Linked DNA regions of Homo sapiens: region 2 is linked to region 1. Evidence: fine-mapped expression QTL. A gene starts in region 1. The other region holds a variant in brackets. All regions are shown on one strand. Distances are from middle to middle. Region 1 holds the start of ARPIN (actin related protein 2/3 complex inhibitor). Region 2 overlaps ARPIN-AP3S2 (ARPIN-AP3S2 readthrough).

Evidence for each region. PIP is the estimated chance that this variant, and not a neighbour inherited with it, causes the effect.
Region 2: its variant is the best candidate, but not a certain one, in a credible set for the expression of ARPIN in fibroblasts (GENCORD, PIP 0.54).

What each region holds. Positions count from the first base shown.
Region 1 is chr15:89,910,067-89,915,438 of GRCh38, forward strand. ARPIN (actin related protein 2/3 complex inhibitor) reads right to left here and starts at 2,886. Exons shown (of 6, transcript NM_182616.4): 1 at 2,678-2,886; 2 at 678-753. The coding sequence starts at 2,769. ARPIN-AP3S2 (ARPIN-AP3S2 readthrough) reads right to left here and starts at 2,886. Exons shown (of 10, transcript NM_001199058.2): 1 at 2,678-2,886; 2 at 678-753. The coding sequence starts at 2,769.
Region 2 is chr15:89,857,240-89,862,611 of GRCh38, forward strand. The region is part of intron 8 of ARPIN-AP3S2 (ARPIN-AP3S2 readthrough); the gene reads right to left. The region is part of intron 4 of AP3S2 (adaptor related protein complex 3 subunit sigma 2); the gene reads right to left. Among named protein-coding and RNA genes, the nearest start is that of MIR5094, 9.2 kb to the left of the region's middle. The variant C/CTTTT (reference allele first, on the strand shown) is at 2,160.

The DNA.
Region 1 (5,372 bases):
GGAGGGTGCAGCAAAATACCGCCTGACATGAAAATAGTGCTGAGCTGTTCTCATGGGGTACAGGAGGGACATGCAGGCTCCATGTAGCACCAGGCCTCTGGCCCTACTGGAGGGGGCATTTTTAGAGACCAAGCTCAGTTATAGAGATCAAGGAGATAAGGTGGTCAGCACATCTAGGTGGGGCTATTTGAAGGGGGAGTGGAAAGTCGGAACTAGCGCTCCGAAAAAAGACACAGGCTAGTACTGGATGGTAAATGCCAGGTGTACCCACAGACACCTGAGATGGGGTGGTGATACAGGACATGACCCCAGGAGGCTGAGAGGGCAAAGGCAGCCAGGACATCAACATGGGAACTGAAGCCCCAGACACTGTCAGAGTTTACATTCAGGCAAGACTGGGGTTTAGGGCCTGGTCTGCCTTCTCAGCCATGACCCAGGCTCTTCTGGCAAGAACACAGGCCCTCCCACCTGTCTGCTGCTCAACACAGCCTTAAACTATTCTTCCAGCTGGTGGTCCCATTTGGCTATAAATCTCCTGACCTACTTCCCACTTGCTTTCTAAGCCCATCAAGAATCCCAACTCATGGCACTGGAAGGACCCAGCACAAGGAGATGCCACAGTGGATGATGACCGTGAAGTCAGTGCCCTCTAGCTAGCACCGAGGAAGCATCCTCACCTTCCTGCCATGAGTGTCCAAGATGCTGTGCCGAGATACATCGATCAGTTCTCCCTCCAGCAGGACACCATTTCCCCTGGGGATGAAAGGGAAAGAAAGGATAGCCAGTTTTGTCAGTCCTCAGCAAATCTCACCCGTGTCTCCTATTTACCCAGCCCTGAGAAGGCTGGGTACTGAGCAGCTCCTTTCCCCGTGCTTCCGACATAGGGATCTCCAAAGGGTCCCAAAGGCTGGGGCATTGCCCAGATGCCAGGAGGAACCTTGTCAGGCTGCCCTAAGATCAAGCTATGGCCCCCTCCTACAAGGCCACTGGGAGTTACTGGAACCAGAGCCTCAGTCTTATCTACAAAATGGGGAGGAAAACAGCTGCCTCACTCTGCTCCTCTGATGTTGACACAAGATCATGTGTGTGAAGGTGTTTTGTAAGCTATTAAGTGATTACTAAATACAAAAGATTTTACTTTTTTATTGGTCCAAATGTGAGGGTAGGTATCTAAGCTGCAATAAACTATTTTCCCTTTCCACCTGTTTTTAAACACTCTCATATTCCTTTTCTCATTCATATCCAGGTGGTCATTAACCCGAGGAAATGGTTATTACTGAGAGGTGAAGAAACCAAAACTCAGAAGTCTGAGACTAGTCCAAGATCACACGGTCCTTCACTGAGGGGAAGTGGACCCCTGGCTTCTCGACTCTGGTTTTCATAAAAGCAGAACGTGGAGGCTTCCTTTTTTGCATCCACAGAAATGGAGAAGCATGGGGACAGCTGAAGATGACAGTGGAATAGGGATGGGAGTGGGAAGTGAAAACTCTACCTAGCTGGTCTCTATCCAATTCTTCCCCACCCCCCACAATTATTTTTCTAAATATTTAACTGACAAAAGACTGTATATATTCAAGGTGCACAACGTGATGATTTAAGTACACACTATGTAATGATTACCACAGATTAATGAACACACCCACCAGACCCCATGCTGTACATTAGGTCCCCAGAAATTGTTTATTCTATAACTGAAAGTTTGTACCTTTGATCATTACCCCATCCCCATCCACTATCCCCTGGCAATCACTGTTCACTGTTCTACTGTTTCTTTTCTTTTGACACAGTCTTGCTCCATCGCCCAGGATGGAGTGCAGTGGCACAATCTCGGCTCACTGCAACCTCCACCTCCCAGGTTCAAGCGATTCTCATGCCTCAGCCTCCCAAATAGCTGGGATTACAGGTATCTGCCACCACGCCCGACTAATTTTTGTATTTTTAGTACAGACAGGGTTTCACCATTAGGCTGGTCTCAAACTCCTAACCTCAAGTGATCCACCCGCCTCGGCCTCCCAAAGTGCTGGGATTACAGGCGTGAACCACAGCGCCTGGTCTGTTCTGCCGTTTCTATGGTTCAACGCTTTTATAGGTTCCATATACGAGATCACACAGTATTTGTCTTTCTGTATCTGGCTTATTTCACTTAGCACAATTCTTCAGCGCAGTTGTAAATGGAATGGTCCCTTCGGCCTCATAACCCTGTGACGACAGGGCCTGGCCCTCCAAATCCTCCTCACCCAGGCAGGCCCTGCTCTGGACCAGCCCGCCCGCTGTTCCCGCCACAGCACGGCCACTGTCCCTTCTGGGGCAGGGCATGAGTCTGTGCAAAAGCAGCGCGGCAAGTAGCTGGAGTTTATAGTTACGCGGGTGGGGTGGGGCCGGAGGTCGGCGTGAGGCGAAGCCCAGCCTTCGGAGACCTGTCTGGGGGTCGGGACCCTCTCTCGAGGGCAGGCGGACAGGCGGGGAGCTTTAAGCCGATCTGTGTCATGGGGTCGCTGGGCGGGCGCGGCGGCAGGGGCGCCGGGAGCGGCGGACTGGAGGGGCGGACTGAAGGCGGAGAGGCGGCTTTGGCAACCCCAGTTTTCCCCCACCCGCATCCCACCCCCCCACCCGATCCTGTTGCGGGGTTCGAGCCGGGGCAGGGGAGGCCGACCCGAGGCCGTGAGCCCAGGCCTACCCCTGGTGGGCGGCGGGGTCCCAGGCCCCTGGCAGCCGGACGCTCTGCACCGCCTTGTTCCGGAGCGCGCCGTCGTGGTAGATGCGGCTCATTCTCCCGACCGCCCGGGCACCCCGGCACAGAGCCGGCGCACTGGGCTGGGGGCGCGGCGCGGGAAGTGCTGCAGGACGCGCGGGGACCCGCGATTCCCAGCCGGCGGATCCGGGAATGGCGCGGCCCGGCCCTCAGGCGTTCCTCGGCGGGATTTAAAGGGACCGAGCTCCATTCCTGCACGCCAGGCCGCGCGCGGCAGGAGTTGGGCTTCCGGGAGGACCCTGGCTGGGGGCTTAGCACAGTGGGGCAGAAAGGCCATGCTTTTCTCTTGTCTCTCTCTCTTCCTCATTCCTAGAGGAAGATCCCTGCCCCAGCACACGCACAAAAGGGAAATTGAGGCCCCAAGATCCTATTATAGAAGATCCTTTGTAGGATCAGCCCGGGAAGGATGGGTTTCTGGGAAGCAGGAATGGAGAACAGCCACTGGGGAGGATTGGGTGGTCAGCTTAGAAGCTGTCCATTATGCCCCGCCCGCGGCCCTACAATGGCTGAGTCAGGTATCCCAGGGATCTGTGACGAGGGAGCTGGGGCATGGGTGTCGGACCAAAGACGCCTAAGTTTGAATCCCAGCTGTGAGCTTGGGCAAGCTCCTCAACCTCTCTGAGCCCATGCTTCTTCGTCTGTAAAATGGGGTCAGTATCAGGGGGATTGTAAAGTTTAATGAGCTCACCCTTTCTACAACATAGCATTGCCCTCCCTCCTTCTTCCTGCACAGCTCCTGAACTCCTCCCTGGCCCCACAATGCCCTTTGCCCAAGTATGTCATAGTCCGCAGGTGCATTTTCCAAGCCTGGTACAGAAGATTCTTCTGACCCTGGGATTGTTGAGGAATCTTTGTTCTTTTGTTTGGCTTCTTCGTGCCAGGCCTCGGGGCAGGTGGGCCCATTCAGGGAGGCCAGGTGTACCCCGGGAGAGGGGGCGGCATTTAAAGGGGGTGGTGGCCAGGCAGGTGCCTAGGAGTCTAGCATGAGCTGTCAATGTTGGAAGAAGAAAGCACCCTCTCCCTTCCCTGCTACACACACACACACACACACACACACACACACACACACACAGACAATGACTTTCTTGGGTCCTAGGCACTTTTGTTTTCAAAGGACCCTTTCTCCATTAAAAATTTTTTAAAAAATTATTATCTTACCACTGGGTTGGCATAAAGATGAATATATGAATTATATATATATATATATATTTTTTTTTTTTTTTTTTTGAGACAGTCTTCCTATGTTGCCCAGGCTGGAGTGCAGTGGTGAATCTTGGCTCACTGTAACCTCTGCCTCCCAGGTTCTAGTGATTCTCCTGCCTCAGCCTCCTGAGTAGCTGGGATTACAGGCACTCACCACCACACCCGACTAATTTTTGTATTTTTAGTAGAGATGGGGTTTCACCATGTTGGCCAGGCTGGTCTCAAGCTCCTGACTTCATGTCACCACCTGCCTCTGCCTCCCAAAGTGCTAGGATTACAGGCCTGAGCCACTGCTCCCAGTCTAAAGTGTTTTCTTCAACCTAAACATATATTTTTTTTTCTGCATCCAATCATCCATTACTAAACATATTTTTAGGAAGAAAGAGCACCTGTAGTCCCAGCTACTCAGGAGGCTGAAGTGGGAGGATCACTTGAGCCCAGGAGTTTGAGTCCAGCCTAGGCAACATAGCGAAACCCTGTCTATTAAAAAAAATTAATGAAATTAAATTTAAATTTTAAAAGAATAAAAACATTTTGTGGACCGCTAAAAGTATGATGGGCCTAATGGATGAGTCAGCCCCACTCCTAGCTGGCCTACCTGGCTGCCCGGTGTATGTCTGAGAAGGAAAAACATAGAAAAGCCCTACTGGAAAGCCCCTCTGGGTAGAACTGTCCTTTGGCCCTCTCTGCTCAAAACCCTCCAGCTGCTCACAGCCACCTGGCTGGCATGTCCTCCTCCTCTTTCCCTTTTCTGTGTCACGTTCCCCCTCACTGTGGCTCCAACTGCACAGCCATCCATGGTAGCCACTAGCCACATGTGGCTACTTAAATTTCGATTCTAACTGATTAAACCTAAATTAAATGTAAAACTCAATTCCTCACTTTCACTAGCCACATTTTTAAGTGCTCAATAGCAACGTGTGTTTAGCGACTACAAGACACAGAACATTTCTTTGTTGCAGAAAGTTGTATTGGACAGGGCTGCTCTAAATCCTCTCAGGAAGAGTCATCTGCTTATTAGGCTCTGCAACTTCACCCCATCGGCACAATCTGCAGGCCAGGCACCAGCAAGACAGAGGAACCCAAAAGAAGAAAAGGAAAATTTTTGGAAAGGTTTTGACATTTATTTCCTAAAAAGCATCAATCATCACGGGAAAAAACCCCAGAATTTTGTTGGACTTTCTTCCATGTATTTTGCAGTTTAATAATGTCTCTATATTAAATTATAAACCACAAGGTACCATGGAGACAGTATCAAGTTATCTTCGATTAACACCATTCAACATTTGATTCCTACACTAATTCCTCTTGCTTTGTGTTCCTCCTCATCATCAAACTTTCCAAAATGTCCAGTTTTTTGTTGTTTGTTTTCTTGAGGCAGAGTCTCACTCTGTCACCCAGGCTAGAGTGCAGTGGT
Region 2 (5,372 bases), 53 kb before region 1:
CCAAAGTGCTGGGATTACAGGTGTGAGCCACCGTGCCTAGTTTATGAGCTTCTTACAGGTAGAAAATTTGAGTTTTATATCTTTGTATCTCTATATTTAGCGCAGTGTCTTTTTCCTAATGAATGCTTAATAAATGATTGTTGTTTGGTAATCAGAGAAAAGACAAAAACACTCTCAGACATCAGTACTTCATCAAGGTCAGAGAGCCAAGGTAAAGACAAATGATTTGCAGAAAGCCTCTAAGGAGGGAGGCACTCGCCTCCCACATATAAAAACCATTTATTCTGTTAAGAAATTTTATTTTAAGTCATCTTAAATTCATTTGGGAAGTATAGAAGATATAAATGCCCAATAATCAGAGAAACTGAAAAGCTGCCATGTGGGATACCTTTCCTAAGATTCAACCATGTTTTCTTCTTATTAGAGCACTCCTCTATTTTTCTGTTACTAAAATTTCTAGCTTCCCTTCTACAAAGTGATAATAAAAATCAAACATTAACTTTTCCTCTAAGAAAATCCATGAAAAAACCATGGTCATCATTGGTAATATTCAACTAGTTCAGGTTCTCCTCCCTCTTGGGCACATAATAGGATCATTTCCCCATCCCTTGGGTGGGAGCATGTGACTGATTTTGATCACTGAAATGTGAGTGTACGAGGATGTGTCACTTCAAGAGCCGGAACACACACATGCCCAGGTAGAAGCATATGTTGAGGAGATTTCCATCAGCCTGGACCTCAGAGGAACTACAGTCAGCAGACACACCACAATGGCCACATAGCACGAGTGAAAAAATAAACCTTGCTCTCATAAGCCATTGGGATTTTGGAGTAATGCATTACCTAGCCTACCTTGATTGATACAAAAATCAAGCCTGGAAAAGGGTTCTTAGTTAGGAATCAAGAGATTCTGCTTTGCTGGGTGTGGTGGCTCACACCTGCAATCCCAGCACTTTGGGAGGCTGAGACAGGCGGATCACCTGAGGTTGGGAGTTTGAGACCAGCCTGATCAACATAGAGAAACTCCGTCTCTACTAAAAAAAAATACAAAACTAGCCGGGTGTGGTGGCGCACGCCTATAATCCCAGCTAGGCAGGAGGCTGATGCAGGAGAATTGCTTGAACCCAGGAGGTGGAGGTTGCAGTGAGCCGAGATCACGTCATTGCACTCCAACCTGGGCAACAAGAGCGAAACTCCATCTCAAAAAAAGAAAGAAAAAGAAAGAAAGAAAGAAAGAAAGAAAGAAAGAAAGAAAGAGAGAGAGAGAGAGAGAGAGAGAGAGAGAGAAAGAAAGAAAGAAAGAAAGAAAGAAAGAAAGAAAGAGAAACTCTACTTCTTATCTTAGAGTAGGCTAATCCTCTTCTGCAATATAAGGAATAATAGCAAGAACAATAAAATTGAATCTCAATTCCAGCCTTTCAGGGTGCCTATAAATCAGCAACCAAAGCAAAATACAATTCGTTTTATCTGCAACATATCCAAGTAATACCATGGGTAATAAGCTTTGTTTACTGACTACAACCTTGACAAACACTAGGTTTTACTGAAAACGGCTGCATATCAAATGAATATCTCTAAAGGTCAAATTGTGCTGTTTTGTGTACACTGTTATTCTACTAACCAGTAATAAGGAATGACTAACACACCAAACTTGAAGCAGCAGGTAATCAATGAGATTGTGCACTGAGGCAATCCAAAGTTCAAGTAAGGAAAGCGAGTGTGTATATGGCAGCAGATATTCAGTATAGTCTGGAACAATCCTTGCTTTTGTTTTTTTCTTTTTTTTTTTCTTTTTTACTTAAAGAGATGGGGTCTCACTTATTGCTCAGGCTGTTCTCAAACTCCTGGGCTCAAGTGATCCTCTCGCCTCAGCCTCCCAAAGTGCTGGGGATTATCGTCGTGAGCCTCCACAACCAGCCCAAGTGTCCTTCCTTCCTTCCTTTCTTCCTTCCTTCCCTCTCTCCTTGCTTCCTTTCTCTTTCTTTCTTTCCTTCTTTCTTTCTTTTTCCCTCCTTCCTTCCTTTTTTTCTTTTCTTTCTTTCCTTTTTTCTTTTCTTTTTCTTCCTTCCTTCCTTTCCTTCCTTCCTTTTTCCTTCCTTTCCTTCCTTCCTTCTTTCCTTCCTTTCCTTCCTTCCTTCCTTCCTTCCTTTTCTTTCTTT[C/CTTTT]TTTTTTTTTTTTGAGATGGAGTCCTGCTCTGTCGCCCAGGCTGGTGTGCAGTGGCGCGACCTCGGCTCACTGCAACCTACACTTCCCAGGTTCAAGCAATTCTCCTGCCTCACGTCTCCCGTGTAGCTGGGATTAAAGGTGCACGCCACCACGCCTGGGTAATTTTTGTATTTTTAGTAGAGACGGAGTTTCACCACGTTGGCCAGGCTGGTCTCGAACTCCTGACCTCAGGTGAGCCACCCGCCTTGACCTCCCAAAGTGCTAAGATTACAGGCTCGAGCCACCGCGCCCAGCCCTTCTTTCTTTTTTTTTCTAAACAAATTACAGGGATTTTAGAAATTTAAGAAATCATTATTGCTGATCTTTTTTTTTTTTTTTTTCTGAGATGGAGTCTCGCTCTGTCACCCAGGCTGGAGTGCAGTGGCGCGATCTCGGCTCACTGCAAGCTCCGCCTCCAGGGTTCATGCCATTCTCCTGCCTCAGCCTCCAGAGTAGCTAGGACTACAGGCACCTGCCACCATGCCCAGCTAATTTTTTGTATTTTTTAGTAGAGACAGGGTTTCACCGTGTTAGCCAGGTTGGTCTCGATCTCCTGACCTCGTGATCTGTCCGCCTTGGCCCTCCCAAAGTGCTGGGATTACAGGCATGAGCCATCATGACCAGCCGATCTCTGTCTTTATGTTACCCTGAGGGAATAAGATTTTGGCCTCTGAAAAAAATATTCTACAGCCAACACTAAGAATTGAAGATAACATACAGAAAGTACAGTAGTCCCCCCTTACCTGCCTAGAATATGTCCTAAGACCCCCAGTGGATGCGTTATTTTTTCCTATACACACATACCTAGGATAAAGTCTAATTTGTAAATTAGGCACAGTAAGAGATTAACAACGATAACTAATAATAAAAACAATTATGACAATATGCCAGCATCATTACTCTTGCACTTTGGGGCCATTATGAAGTAAAATAAAGGTTACCTGAACACAAGCACCGTGACACTGTGACAGTCAAGATGGCTACTAAGTAAGCAGTGGGCAGCTAGTGTACACAGCACGGATACAATGGATGAGGGGATGATTCCCATCCTGGAGCAGGACAGAGCAACATTTCATCATGCTGCTCAGAATGGCATGCAATTTAAAACGTATTGTTTATTTCTAGAATTTTCCATTTAATATTTTTGGACCATGGTTGACTGTGCATAACTGGAACTACAGAAAGTGAAACTGCAGATAAAACTGTCTGTCTTAACCACGCTTTAACTCTGCCCTACAACTGGCCTTTCTGTATGTAAGATAATAAATTTCCTTATTACTTAAGCCAAAAAAAAAAATTCTGCCACAAAATTCTTACCTATCAAGCATCAGTAAAGAAGGGCTTTATAGATGCAATGGAACACAAGGCTGGTCTCAGCTCTCTTCTTCTCTTAGGCACATCCAGATAGAGAAACAGAGGCAGCCAGGGATAGTCAGGTATGTTAACTCGCACCTTTTACAAGAACTAAAACTCAAACAGAATACCTTATTCTTCCAGACCAAATAGCTCCTCTTTCATCATCAAAAACACAAACTGTCTGTCCCTCACTTGTCCCTCCATTCCTGGAGACCTGCAGTCAGGACATCTGCTTCAACGTCACAGGGTGTGGCAGGTATTAATGAGCTTTGTTATCACAAGCTCTGTTCACAGAAGGGACATCTGGCAAACAAAACCCAATATTACTGTTTATGATCCTTTCATCTTAGTGCTCACGAGTTAATTTTGAACTCTCAGCATTTTTCCATTTTAGCAGCCTATGCTTAGCAGAGATTTAAAATTCCATACTATGAGGTTTTCTTGGGTTCAGCACCATTCAGAAGCATATGTTTCAATTCTCTTGAGAGGGCCCACTGCAAATTGAAATCTATTTAAAAAAAAATAAAGCGCTGGATAAATTCCCTTGACATAGCCATTGAATTGTGACTCTGATGACCAAATCTTGAAAGCCCAATTGAATTCTAAATCCAGCTTTGCTATTAGATACTGGTAGATCAGAATGTTAGGTCACCCACACAGTTTTCTTTGAACAAAATTCAATTCACCATAATTAACACCAACACCCAGCTCAGTCATAATGTTGAGCTGTGTTTAGGGATTTCTGAAAGCAAAAGGGAACCAAGTACCCTAGGCTCTAAATGGCACAGCCAGGAGAGCTGATGGTTACCCCAGAGACTATGAAATCAGACCTTACTCCAGCCTCCAACAGTTTAAATCATGAGCAACCTTATGAGACTAGAGTCCTGGGAACTCTTTAGTGACAGTCACCTGAAGATTACCCCAGTCAGTAAAAGGTACCACACTAGATTCAGTGAGGAATACAAAGATAAGGCAGTCTAACCAAGCAGGGAAAACATAGAAAGGTACATAAATTAAGGTCACAGAAGGATAAAAATAATACTATACCTGGTTCAAAGAGATCACAATAGGCTAGACCATGAGGGCAAGCTTTAGGGTGGTAGGATTTGAGCAGCACTTGAATGACAGGCAGTATTTAGTACATGAAAAGACAATTCAGGCAGAGAGTTGAGGCAGGAACTACAAAATAAGTAGGAGTGGTCCACTGTGGCTAGAGCAGAAAGTGTCTGGCCAGTAGTTACGGAAGTAAAGCCAGGATAGGATGGGCACAAATTGTGGAGAGCCTTGAATGTGTCCGGCCAAGGAGTCAAGGCTAGTCTAAGAAGTACATTAGAAAAACTAATTTCAGTATGTGGGATCAACAAGAAGGAAGAGAGAATAAGGTTAGAAAACCTGCCAGAAACAATCAAGAGACATGACAACTAAAGACAATGTTTGACTCATAACTGAAACTGAGATTTAAAAAAAGATCTAAAGGACATTTCTGGGACAATTGGGAAACTTAAATATGAACTATATATTGGAAAACAATATTTATTAATGTTAAATTTCCCAACTATGTTAATTGTGTTGTGCATCATTAGAGAATTACATACAATGTATTATATAAGAATATCCTTGCTCTTAGGAGATATTTATTGACATATTTAGGGATGAAAAGTTATGATGTCTGCAACTAATTCTCAAAATCGTTCAGGAAAAAAAGTATATATGTATATAGACATAAAAGCAAGTATGCCAAATGTTAATAGTTGGTGAATCTAAGAACAAGATATAAAGAAGGACATTACAGAAAAAAGCAACAGATTTAGTGATTG